2 linked regions of the Homo sapiens genome follow. The protein of the gene in region 2 interacts with the protein of the main gene of each other region in a pairwise test. Each region holds a gene or a part of one and is shown on either strand. Other genes may lie near its edges.

Region 1 (7,036 bases), on a different chromosome or scaffold from region 2:
TTTTTAGTAGAAACAGGGTTTCATCATGTTGGCCAGGCTGGTCTCGAACTTCTGACCTCAAGTCATCTGCCCGCCTCAGCCTCCCAAAGTGCTGGGATTACAGGCATGAGCCACCGCACCTGGCCAGATTGGCTCTTTTAGATAGATCACTGTGTTAGCAGTCTGGAGAGCGGGTTTGAAGAGACTGAAAAGGGACCACAAGAGACAACACAAAGGCATCCCAGCTCAATTTCCATAGACAAAATGAGAACAAAAAGTGCCACTTTTGAACCAACATACGTAACAAAACTTATAAAATTTGAAACACGACATTTTTACTGTTCCTGCCTTCCATGTACCACTAAAACAGCCAGTGAATCTGTCACCCACCCTCCCAACAGAGATCCCACGGGTTCTAAGAAATCCACATCCCCCCTGCAGACACTGTGATACTGCAGCAGTCCTTTCACTCCTTAGCAAAGAATTGTCTCCCCTTCCTCTGACAAGAGAGACCACAATGACCCAGTTCATTCCACTCCTCCACCCTGGATAATGAGCAAATGAGGTTTCCCCTTTAACACACTGCTCATCTCTAGTAGTTCCCAACTCTGGCACTTAATCAATCAGAAGCACATTAACCACTCCATGCAGATTAAACAGTAAGCAGGAAGTTAGTGAGTGCTGTATAGCAGGATATAAGGAAAGCAAGAAATAAACATGTAGTGCTGGGTTCCTTGATAGGCACCTTAAAGAATCTCAGTTCTCATTACAGTGGTTTATAAGAGTATACATTAATTCTCCCAGTTCACAGATGTGTGAGCAGGAGCTCAGAGATGTTGAATAGCTCATTCATTTGGTAAATGGAGAAGCCAGGATTCAAATCCCAAAATGAGAAGCTCTAAATGGTGTTTATTTACTACACCATATTTCAAGTATATATGGATAACAAATATGATTACATATTAAGGTTAGTAATAAAAATATCTCCCCTTTAAAAACAGAGAAGGGACTCATGGATAGGAAGAATCAATATCATGAAAATGGCCATACTGCCCAAGGTAAACTATAGATTCAATGCCATCCCCATCAAGCTACCAATGACTTTCTTCACAGAATTGGAAAAAACTACTTTGAAGTTCATATAGAACCAAAAAAGAGCCCACATTGCCAAGACAATCCTAAGCCAAAAGAACAAAGCTGGGGGCATCACGCTACCTGACTTCAAATTATACTACAAGGCTATAGTAACCAAAACAGCATGGTACTGGTACCAAGACAGAGATATAGACCAATGGAACAGAACAGAGCCCTCAGAAATAATACCACACATCTACAACCACCTGATCTTTGACAAACCTGACAAAAAACAAGAAATGGGGAAAGGATTCCCTATCTAATAAACGGTGCTGGGAAAACTGGCTAGCCATATGCAGAAAGCTGAAACTGGATCCCTTCCTTACACCTTATACAAAAATTAATTCAAGACGGATTAAAGATTTAAATGTTAGACCTAAAAGCATAAAAACCCTAGAAGAAAACCTAGGCAATACCATTCAGGACATAGGCATGGGCAAGGACTTCATGACTAAAACACCAAAAGCAATGGCAACAAAAGCCAAAATTGACAAATGGGATCTAATTAAACTAAAGAGCTTCTGCACAGCAAAAGAAACCACCATCAGAGTGAACAGGCAACCTACAGAATGGGAGAAAATTTTTACAATCTACCTATCTGACAAAGGGCTAATATCCAGAATCTACAATGAACTCAAACAAATTTACAAGAAAAAATCAAACAATCCCACCAAAAAGTGGGCAAAGGATATGAACAGACACTTCTCAAAAGAAATTTACGCAGCCAACAGACACATGAAAAAATGCTCATCATCACTGGTCATCAGAGAAATGCAAATCAAAACCACAATGAGATACCATCTCACAACAGTTAGAATGGCGATCATTAAAAAGTCAGGAAACAACAGGTGCTGGAGAGGATGTGGAGAAATAGGAACACTTTTACACTGTTGGTGGGACTGTAAACTAGTTCAACCATTGTGGAAGACAGTGTGGCGATTCCTCAAGGATCTAGAATTAGAAATACCATTTGACGCAGCCATCCCATTACTGGGTATATATCCAAAGGATTATAAATCATGCTGCTATAAAGACACATGCACACGTATGTTTACTGCAGCACTATTCACAATAGCAAAGACTTGGAACCAACCCAAATGCCCATCAATGATAAATTGGATTAAGAAAATGTGGCACATATACACCATGGAATACCATGCAGCCCTAAAAAAGGATGAGTTCACGTCCTTTGTAGGAACATGGATGAAGCTGGAAACCATCATTCTGAGCAAACTATCACAAGGACAGAAAACCAAACACTGCATGTTCTCACTCATAGGTGAGAATTAAACAATGAGAACACTTGGACACAGGGTGGGGAACATCACACAATGGGGCCTGTCCTGGGGTGGGGGGAGGGGGGAGGGATAACATTAGGAAATACACCTGATGTAAATGACGAGTTAATGGGTGCAGCCACACCAACATGGCACATGTATACATACATAACAAACCCGCACGTTGTGCACACGTACCCTAGAACTTGAAGTATAATAAAAATAAAAAATAAAAATAAAATAAAAACAGAGAAGGGACATATATCCTACGGTCTCAGATTAAGGGATCACTCACAAAAGTGACAAACGATCACAACTGGAATCTCCAAATGCTACTAAAAAAAAAAAGGTCACTTCTGAGCATTAGTGACCAAAAAATGTTCAGACTCAAATAATCAAAGCAATCTGGCTATCCTCCAGAGAAATATCTCAAATCCTCCACACACTTTCCCCTCAGAGTCCCTAAGACAATGTTTGAAAAAACTCATGGCTGACTGCTCATTCTCTTGAGTAAATGACTTCCCAAACTACTTTGCCCACCCAAATTACAGAAATGCGTCCAGGATTCACATGGCAGTTCTGATCCGATTTGTCCCAATCCTGGCTCAAGCAGCTTTGCTACTTTCCTAACTAGATCAGCATCAGCCAATGGGTTTATTCAAGCTGATCTGTGATGGATTAGATAATGAAACCTTAGCCATGTAAGCTGCCTGCTTGTATTGGGGTTGTAGAGGAGAATAAGAAGAAACTCAATACTCCTAGGGGCCACCTAAAACACCAAATGTACTCACCATCCCTCACTCCATCTGTCTGCTCATGCTCCAATTACTGCCATTTCCTTCCAATCATGTCTGTGGTTCTTCCCTCCTGCCTTTGAAGGAAGTGCACATTTGCCCCAGAATAAAGATGTTTACTATGCTTTACAAATGTATATCAACAAAAATTCAAAGAAATCTGCTTACTAAAATGACTGTCTTTTTCTACAAATTATTAAAGCCTGACATCAAACTGAAGGCCTGAGAGATGTTAAACTAGAGATTCACTAGCAACATTCTTGTTTATACAAAGTAGCATAACTCAATTTCTTTCTCAGCAGTCCTGTAAACTTGAGGCCTGTCTGCACCAGTCTGCTTTACAGCAAAATGAAAGTTAAATTTCTAGTTAGCTTCTGTTGTGTTCACATGTCAGCGTGATAGTGAAAAAAAAATGACAGAGTAGCTAGAAAATGGGAGGGAGTTGGGAGACAAACTCAACTCAAGCTAATCTCTTGAGTCACCCTGAAGAATAATTCTACTTTGAAATCAGATCTGACTTTCTCCTTCTCAAATACATTTCCAGTTTTACATCTGCAGACTTCCTTGTAAGACATGGGGAAAAAAGCAACAAGTTTTACATGACTGTTCCTCAGTTTCTCCATCTACAATATTTACCACTCTGGTAGTGTTACAGGCTTAATGTCTGTGTCCCTCTAAATTTCGTATGTTGAAGCCCTAACCCCAGTGTAATGGTATTTGGAGGTAGGACCTCTAGAATTAGCTTCAGATTGGGTCATGAGGGTGGGAACTACATGATAAATGAGTGCCCTTATAAGAAGAGGAAGAGACCACTGACTCTCTCTCCCCCAGGGCACAGACAAAGGAAAGGCCATGTGAACACACAGCAAGAAGACAGCTATCCACAAGCCAGAAGGTGGGCCCTCACCAGACATGAAATCTGCTGGCACCTTCATCTTGGACTTCCCAGCCTCCAAAACTGTGAGAAATAAATGTCTGTTGTTTAAGCCACCCAGTCTATGGTATTTTGCTGTGGCAGCCCAAGGACACTGGGACAGGGAGAGATGAAAAATTCAGTAATTTCAGTGAAATATTGTTCATGAAATTACTTGCAAGAAAAAAAAAACACAATATTTTTATAACTCTTCTTGAATGGTAGCACCATGCTTAGTTTCAGCACCAAATACCAAATGAGGGCACAAAGAGACATCCACCTATGAGGAAATAAGCCCATAAATAAGCAAATGGGAAGATAAACTACTTCAATAAACACAGCATCTACAAAGCAACTTCAGGCTATCTGGAACCCCTTCCCTGAAACCTGAAAGAAAGTCATCTTACTACTAGAATCAGCTGCTAATAGGAATAACTGCTGAACCCACTTGGCTAAACTGGATTTATGACTCTATGGTGAGAAGCGGTTACTTGGCCATATAATAATTATACCATATCAACATTTCACTGACACAAAGAATTCTGCTGAAAGCTATAAGTAATAAGGTACATCTTACCTTATACAGCAGCTAAACTCTTAGAAAACTGCACAAAAATAAAATTTTTATGAATCAAATTGTTCACTAGAAAAGCTGACCAAAAGAATTCATTCCCCACTACATTGTATAGAGCGTAAATTTCATACATATTAAACTTAAAGTGAAATGAACCTCTAATAGCCCTATATTTAACTCATTTAACTTCCCACAAACTTTGAGTACAGTATTTCCAAGTACTCTCTTTAACTACATTTCTCAAACTGTACATCAGCTTTCCAGTTGAGTTTGTCACTTCCCTCCTACTCTCTGGTTCACGTTTCTCTATTTCTGTACTCTTTCCAGGGCTGCACTGACTCCTCTTCCACCTACATCAAGTTTCTGTATACTGCCTTTGAAAGCACCGACCCTTCCTCTCTTTCTCCTAGGGTTCCTTCTGAGCCTAAGGATTATAACAAAAGCATCACAGACTCTCTGGCGTTTCCTAAACTCCATTTTGGTAAGTGATGATTTACTCCAAAAGCTTAGTGGTACAACTTAACAAGATTCAACTTTGGAATCTAACGCTTAGCACTACAGCTCCATTTAGTAAGCAGCCTTGGGAATGACCCCAGTAAATGAACTTATTCTATAAAAAGCGGTTAATCCTTTGACATTCAAAGTGCCTGGAAAATTCTGTGATGATACCCTCACTCTGGAATTTCACAATTTTTCTTAATCCTTAACTATCTGTAAAAGGTAAATTTCAATTTCAATTTAACAGGCATTGAGCACTTACCAAGTACCCAAAACTGTTAGGTATTACGAAGGATAAATACAAAGGAAATATAGTTCCTATCTTTTAGAAGCTTACAATCTTAGCAGTGAAACAAGAATAATAAAACAATTAAGGGACAATAAAAGATGACACACAATTAAGCATCAATATACCAAGAGGCAAGAGTAGGATCGGAATGGTGTGAACTAAGCTGTCAGGGAAGGCTTCACAAAAGGAGTTAGAAAACGTGTTAAGAAAACAGGCCAGGTGCAGTGGCTCATGCCTGTAATCTCAGCACTTTGGGAGGCCAACGCAGGCGATCACCTGAGGTCAGGAGTTCGAGACCAGCCTGGCCAACATGGTGAAACCTCATCTCTACTATAAATACAAAAATTAGCGGGGTGTGGTGGCACATGCCTGTAATCCCAGCTACTCAGGAGGCTGAGGCATAAGAATTGCTTGAACCCAGGAGGCAGAGGTTGCAGTGAGCTGAGATCAAGCCACTGCACTCCAGCCTGGGCAACAGTGAGACTCCATCTCAAAAAAAAAGAAAAAAAAGACGTGTACTTTAAGACAAACCCACATACCCAAAACACTGGCTACGATAAGATTTTTTTTATTTTTTTGAGACAGATTTTCGCTCTTGTTGCCCAGCCTGGAGTGCAATGGCGCAACCTCAGCTAACTGCAACCTCCGCCTCCCGAGTTCAAGTGATTCTCCTGCCTCAGCCTCCCTAGTAGCTGGGATTACAGGCGCCTGCCACCACGCCTGGCTAATTTTTTGTATTTTTAGTAGAGACGGGTTTCACTATGTTGGCCAGGCTGGTCTCGAACTCCTGATCTCAGGCGATCCACCCGCCTCAGTCTCCCAAAGTGCTGGGATTACAGGCGTGAGCCACTGCGCCCGGCTAAGATTTTTAAAGTGTGTATTTACATAGGGCCTATAGATATTTCTAAACCACTGATACCATCTCCTAAGACTACCTGCCCTTGCTCTCTCTGCTCCAGCTATTAATACATTGGTCTCCTGTTTCCAAACAAACCAAGCAGTCTTTCTCAATGCCTGTGCACCCTCACCTCCTCTACCTGAACCCTCTTTCCGAAAGCATCTGAATGGCCCATTACCTCACTTCACTCATAGGCCATCTATCTTAAAGCCCTTCCGTAACCATCTTCATTCTCTCCCTTTCCATCTCTCCCTTTCCCTGCTTTTTCTTTTTAGCCCTTATCACCACACAATTATAGTTGTTGATTTATTAGATGTCTCTTTCCATTCAATATTAGTTCCATGACAGCAAGGGTTTTTTGTTGTTGTTGTTCACTATTATATCTCTTAGGGTTAAAACAGTGCCTGGGATGTAGCAGCTGCTTAATAAATGTTAGTTCAATGAATAAACATTAAGTATATTCATGTAATACTCTCACACTTCTTTAAAAATGCACGCTTCTTTAAAAAAAACTTTTCGCCCATTTGTCTCCCCACATAGATTGCATGCACCTTAAGGACAGTGAACTGGACTTATAACTTTTAGAAGGTAACTTAGAACTTGGCCGGGTGCGGTGCCTCACACCTGTAATCCCAGCACTTTGGGAGGCCGAGGTGGGTGGATTACAAGGGAAATCATCT
Region 2 (7,000 bases):
CTGGGCCATCTGGAAATCCTTAAACGTTTCTTTGCCCATTTTCTGCCTGGGCTTGTCGGTCTGTGGACTTGACCTGGTGGAGTCACTCGTGCCTGGGACGGTGGCAAGGGGGGTGAGGGGACCTTGGAACATGGCAGCTGGCAAAGGCATAACAGTTTGTGTGGGCATGAAGGCGGCTGGCGGAAACTGCCCGGCCACAGTTGGCCAGGGCTGCTGAGTGGCAGGAAAGAGACCCGGCTGGCCCCATGCGATGGGCTGAGCCCCCGGCATCACCTGAGCGACTGGTGGCTGGGCACCCATGACCATCTGCTGTTGGACGAGGGGCTGCTGACCCCAGAAGGACGGGAGGACAGCGCCCATTGCAACGTAACCTGGGAGAATGAAAAAGGAGAGTCAGGTGTTTCCCTGGTGTCCTGGGAAAGAAGGATGCATGGACTCAGGTAATTGACAGAAATGTATCAAGCACCAACTAAGTGCCAGACTGTGTGCCAGGGACTGGGGATGCCAAGATGAACAAGACAAAGTCCTTGCTGTCATAGAGCCTATATCCTAGAGAAGTGGTCAGGGAAATCCTCTCTGAGGAGATGATCTGTAAGCAAAAACTAGAATGCTAGTAATCACATTTCTGTAGTTGCTAAAAGTTTCTAAAGTCTCATAGCCTCAGAAGCTGTGTGTCTCAGGGACAGGGCAGAAGGATGGAAGGCAGGCCTCCTGGGTTTTCTCCTTGCCTCCTCTTCCTGCTGCACTTAGGACCCTCTCAATTGCATAAGCTCTCTAAGAGTCTGACTCTTTGTGGTAAAACCAGGTTATAATACCTTCCTTCACAGGACTTAGGCAGTGTGCAGAGTGAGTAAGAATCTGAATGTTGGAGTTTTAGAGACCTAGGTTAAAATTCAAATGGCCACTTCTTATCTATGTAATTTGGGGAGCAGTTCTTAAATCTGTCTAGGGCTCCATGACTTTATTTGTAAAATGGGTATAAACACCTTCTATCTCACTGGGTTGATTTGAAGATTAATTGATAGTACATATTTAATATGTGGAGTATTGTACCTGACACAGGATCAACATTCAGTAAATGTTAGTTAGTAGTATGGTTTGGATTAGATAGAGGCTAGAAAGTTACTTATTACGTTGCTTAATATACAAGAGCCATGTAATAAATGGTAGCGAGAGGTATTATGCATGATTTCTGTATTATTATTCTTATTCCAATTTTAGAGAATAAAAAAAAAATAGGGCCAGATGTGGTGGCTTATGCTTGTAATCCTAGCACTTTGGGAGGTCCAGGTGGGAGGATTGCTTGAGGCTTGGAGTTTGAGACCAGCTTTAGCAACATAACAAGACCTCTTCTCTACCAAAAATTTTAAAAAATTAGTCAGGAATGGTGGCACATGCTCAGAGTTCCATAGTCTCGGCACTCAGGAGGCTGAGGCGGGAGGATCACTTGAGCCCAAGAGTTTGAAGCAGCACTGAGCTATGATCACCCTACTGCACTTCAGCCTGGGTAATAGAGTGAGACACTTGTCTCTAAAAAAAAAAAAAGAAAGAAAGTTATTGTCCACTCAGGGGCACCTCATGCATCAGTACAGGTTACACACTGCAAAACCCCACATCCTGTACTCACACGTATTACCATGATAATTGTTCACTGTATTATTCTTTTTAGGTAAGACATATACATTTCAACAGGAGCACAAGCAACACTTGTTATAATAATAATAGTAACATAGTAACAGCAACAAGCTCCACTTATTAAATGCCTACAACACGCCACGTACACTAGTAGGTGTTTTATGTCTTCACGAAATCCCGGCAGGGTAGGTATTATTATCTGTATTTTAGGGATGAAGAAATTGGTGCTCAAGGAAAAGCAACTTGCTCAGGGTCATACAGGTTGTATGAAGTAGGAGCAGGGTCAAACTGAGGTTGTCTGTCCCCCCAAAGCCAGGGTTCCTTCCTTTGTGCCACACACTGCCTCACCCAGATGGCCAAGACCAATTTCTGATCTTTGCAGTTAATAGACCTCCTTGCCTTCTATTTGATTGTATTAGAATACTGCAGGCCTGCAGGAAACTCCCATGTGCTTCCAGGGGTCCCCACCCTTCTCAGGGGACACAATGGCCACCTCTATGTGCAGTTGAGCCTGAGAGACAAGTTCTCAGGCTGGGCAGAGCAGAGAACAGAGAAGCTAGCTTTGCCTGGCCTCTCAAAACTAGCCTTTCCATGGCTGTCAGTAGGAATGTACCGAGGCAGTGTACCAGGAAAAAAAGAGGAATGGATGCAGAGTATCCTAGCAACTTCCAAAGGGACAATGGGTGGGCGTTACGGCATTGATGACATTATGAGTCATCTCACTGACTCTTGTGAGCCCAGAGAGATCCAATGCAGGGTGCCTCACTCCATGCTCAAGTCACAGATGTACCCGCCTTCATCTGACTGATACAGGCTAGAGCCAATATTCAAGGCCTGGTCATTTTCCTCGCAAGGTGCCCATTTCCTCTCATGCCGTGCTTCCCTAACAGGAGGCTCCAGAGAGGCACCAACAGGACACCTGGGCTTCTTGCTGATTAATCTCGCAGTGTTAAACACTTCTGCGGAATAAAACAATGATGTCAACAAACAAAATGGAGAATATCTTGTAAGACCACTTTGTCCAACTGCACTGAAACAAGAGGGGTGAAGAGGCCCTGGAGCTGAAATTTCAAACGTGAAGCTTGCTTAGCTTGCCTCGCCCATGGCATAATAATGTAGTGGCTTAAATCTACCAACAGATGAAGAATCCGGCAACTCTGTCTTGTTTTCTGGTTTACTTTGATATGGCCCAGTGGTTCTCAGTGGGAGTGCTACTGCCCCCTAGGGGTGGCTAGAAAATTTGTGGGGTGTGTTTCGGTTGTCACAAGAGGAGGGGGTGGCACTACTGGCATTTAGGAGGCCCAAGCATTGACAGTAGACATCCTATTATGTCTGAGACCAATGCGTACGACAAAGCATTATTCCACATCCTGTTTATGATCATTTGCACCTAGAATCGACTTTGAATTACATGGAAATTCAGTTATCTTTGCATTTGATTTTAATGCATTTAATTTTCCAGGAATTCAACAACTGTGCACAGGAGAGAAGACTGTATTTTTGGTTTGGAACACTGTCAAAAGGTGTTCACTATTTTGGAAAATGGCAGTGCCTGACATCCCTGACAGAAGCGCTTCTCATGGTGGTGTAGCCACATGACACTTCTGTATTAGCCTGGACTTACAGCTGTGGCTTTCAGTAGTGATTCTACTTACAGGTATATACATCTGACTCTTATGTCTTCTAGTGTGCTCACGCCTGAGTATTTCCTTATTTAAATACATATATTTTTATTACAAGTTCTCTTTCTTTTCTTTCTGCCTTATACTACAGTTAGAGAATTATATTCATTTTGAAAAATTGTGTAGCTAGACTACATTATCTATGAAATTCATTTCAAGGTGTGAAAGGAGGTATTGCAAATATTTGTAATAAGAAGGGGGTGCTGGGTCTGCAGGTGGAGAACTACCCACAGATTCAATCACCCAAGACCTGATGCCCATTTTGGTGAATGAGTGGATGTTTTCACTCTCTTGACATCAGCCTGTTTTTGGCTTTGCTTTTATTCCACCCTCCTTGCTGCCATGAAGGACTGTTTTTAAATGCATATATGGTACTTCATTGTCTTAAGTATAAGGCTCAGATGTCTTAGCTTGGCTATGCGTCCTTGGGGGTCAGCTCCTTCCACCTCTTCATCACTATCTTCAATCCATATCCTCACTGCACCTTGCCCTCCAGCATTTGCAAACAAAACCCAACCTGCTGTCTCTTGTCTCTGCTGGCCCATCTGCCTGGAAAGCCATCCCCCTGCTTCTGTGCTGTCTAACCCTGATTTGCTCTTGGAGACTCAGTTCACTATCACCTCTGTTGGATGGCTTCTTGCTCCTGTCAGCACCACTGGTCCTTCTCTGGGCTTCCACAGTACCCTGTGCTCACCTCTATCATGACACTTGTCACACTGCCTTGCAATTGCCTGGTTGTTCTATCTTCCCTGATGAGACTAGAAACCACCTGCTGGCAGGAACTCTTTATTCTCTCTCTCTTTCCACCCTGCCTAGCATGGTTTGGGACGGGAGAAAGGCCCTACATAAAGGTAAATGAGTCCTAGTCAATACATTCACTGCATTTTTCCCGGTGTCTAATTAAACCCACAATGCATAAGTGCTGTGATCTCTGATGATTCTACTGTTGGTGGCAGGTTTTTTTTCCCCTCCCATCTTTTATTTTTTTTCCACAAGGAGCTAACAGATGGGCTGTGCACACTTTTCTGGAGAGAGCTATTAGCATGTCTCTCTGGCTTCATGCCATCTGCTCCAGACCAAAGTACAATATTCAAAAGAAAAAAGGCAGCACAGGGTAATTGGGTATCATGTTTAGGAGCCTGCAGGTCCCACTCACTTTTCCTAGGGGTTCCCTGCAGGCTGGCTCTCCTCGGCCTGTGAGTTAAGGCTGTCTGGCCACATGGTCTTGTGCATGAGCGAAGGGACACGTCAGCAGCAGGACAGTGGTGGCACTGGACAGAGGGAGCCACTTGGTGGCTGCCACTGCAGCCACTTAACAGCTTGTTAACTGTTTACAATTAATGTCCAATAGTGGAGGGAGGAGGTACTAAGGAGCATCTGTTTATGCCGTGAAGTTCAGAGCAATCATAAATCTCCTTGCTGTGGAGTGAAAGGGAACACCTGCCTTGCTGCCTTACAGTTAGGTTTTTAAAAAGTGTTGAAAATTGTGATTTACAGCCAGATGCTGACACCTGGGGATGCCCCCATTATTTGAAAAAAGAAAAAAAGGCAGACTGAAATATAAGAAAAGCACTAAAAACGAAGGAACTCCTCCAACATTTATACAGAACTTGTATGACATCTCTTATCTACATTATCTCATTTGATGGATTCATTCATTCAAAAATACCTCCACTAGGTGCCAATCACTGCTTTAGTGTGTGGAGACAAAACAAAGAACAAAACAGTCACCAAAAAAAAAAATTCTTACCCTGTGCAGCTTACATTTTTGTGAAGGTGATCCTTTCCACAAGCCTCTGGGGTGAGTGTGATTGCTATCTCTTTAATTTGTATAGGAGAAATTGCAACTCCATGAGGGAAAGATTTGATGCAGCTACACACTGTATGAATAGCAGATCCAAGGCTCCTGAAGAACCATGTAGCAAACATCTGTTGAGTGCTTACTGATGGAAGCACTGCCAGGAACTGTTGTACCTATTTTACAATGTGCATTTACTCATGCAATCCTTAGAAAAACTCTATGAGGTAGAATTATGATCATCCCCATTAAAACGGGGTAAGTTCCCTGAGGCTCAGAAGATATTTATCTGAGTATGGTGCAGCTGGCTAGTGGCAGAGCTTGTGTTCATACATAGTACATTCTCCAGGCCACCCATTCTCCTGCTGTCTGCTATAAGCAGTCAAGAGGCTGAAGACCTAAACTTTATTACAGGCACTAATTTCCAGGTAAAGGAAAAAATATAGGTAGAACAGGACATATATTCATCTACTGTAGAAATCAGAGTAATCATAATAATACAGCATATTCTACACTAAATATTGATGATGTGCCAGCATTTTTCAGTGTGTAGTGATACCACTTCTACAGCTGCAGTTAATGTAGTGATTCATTTAATTCTCTTGATATTGTTGCAAAGTAAGTATTATTTTACACTCAGTTATAAAGATGAAGAAACTCTGACTCTGACAGGTCAAGTAATTTGCCCAGGAGTCTAAAGCTTAGAAATAATGGCTGAATCAGGATCCAAACCTGGCCCATTAGATTCAAAAGCCCCCAGGAGCCAGTCCATCCGTTGTATCACATACTCCAGTTCACTTCCCTGTCTCCTTATCACTGGCTGGACAATTAGTCACAAGGAGATCGGGATTCAATAGCTACAGAAATTTTTATGGCCAGTTAAGGGAGAAATAGGGCACACAGTTTAACACCAACTGAAGCCAGTTCTGTCATATTAACTAGAGTCAGAAAGCAAAAACATGCTAATTGAAATTAATTTTAGACTCGTGTTCTAAAAGTTGAAATCTTGGAGGTAATCTATCAAAATTTTAGCAGCTAAAGAAAGGAAATCTGGATATGTGGAAGTGGCTTGTCCATAGCTTCCAATGTGGCTGGTTAAGCAGCAAGACTAAAACCCAGGTCTTCCAAGTCCCTAATCTGGTACAGGTTTGAAAGAGGGCCCAGAGCAGTGCTGTGACTGACCCAGTGATATGGTTTGGCTGTGTCCCCACCCAAATCTCACCTTGAATTGTAATAATCCCCATGTGGAGATAAATGAATCATGGGGGTGGTTTTCCCCACACCGTTCTCATGGTAGTGAGTAAGTCTCATGAGATCTGATGGTTTTATAAAGGGGAGTTCCCCTGAACACAAGCCCTCTTGTCTGCCACCATGTAAGACATTCCTTTGCTCCTCCTTTTTCTTCCACCATGATTGTGAGGCCTACCCAGCCATGTGGAACAGTGAGTCCATTAAAACTCCTTCCTTTGTAAATTACCCGGTGTCAGGTATGTCTTTATCAGCAGCGTGAGAATGGACTAATACACCCAGGCAGGTCCTCAGCGTGTTTTTAATCAAATGTTAGGGCTGGAAGAGATATAAAATTGCATCTAGTCCCATCTTCTCAATTATAGAGAAGGGAATGGAGACTTGGGGGACCAAGTCATTCCTCTGCCTGGAGTACCTGGAACTCTGATGCCTACTTGAGACTTTCCTGTCCCTGCTAGTCCTGTCACATGTCACCTAGGCAAGAGCCCCTCGTGACTACAGGGGCTCCACTTACACCTGCCCTCTGCCTGCACTCAAAAGCCCCCATGCTCTGGTCTGCATTTTCTTTTGTCCCTATCACTTCTCATTTTTAAATATATTATGCAAATTACTTATTTTTATGTTATTTCCTGTCTTC

What was found. Proteins that work in one complex are often made in the same cells at the same time.
Region 1: the proteins of DAB1 (region 2) and RBFOX2 interact in binary tests that used the Homo sapiens proteins (3 or more experiments, as listed by UniProt).

The regions. Positions count from the first base shown.
Region 1 is NC_000022.11:36,018,789-36,025,824, forward strand, and holds part of RBFOX2 (RNA binding protein fox-1 homolog 2), read right to left. Parts: intron 1-7,036. UniProt on the Homo sapiens protein: RNA-binding protein that regulates alternative splicing events by binding to 5'-UGCAUGU-3' elements. Prevents binding of U2AF2 to the 3'-splice site.
Region 2 is NC_000001.11:57,015,061-57,022,060, forward strand, and holds part of DAB1 (disabled homolog 1), read right to left. Parts: intron 3,293-7,000; exon of another isoform or gene 1,474-3,292; intron 372-1,473; coding exon 1-371. UniProt on the Homo sapiens protein: Signaling adapter of the reelin-mediated signaling pathway, which regulates the migration and differentiation of postmitotic neurons during brain development.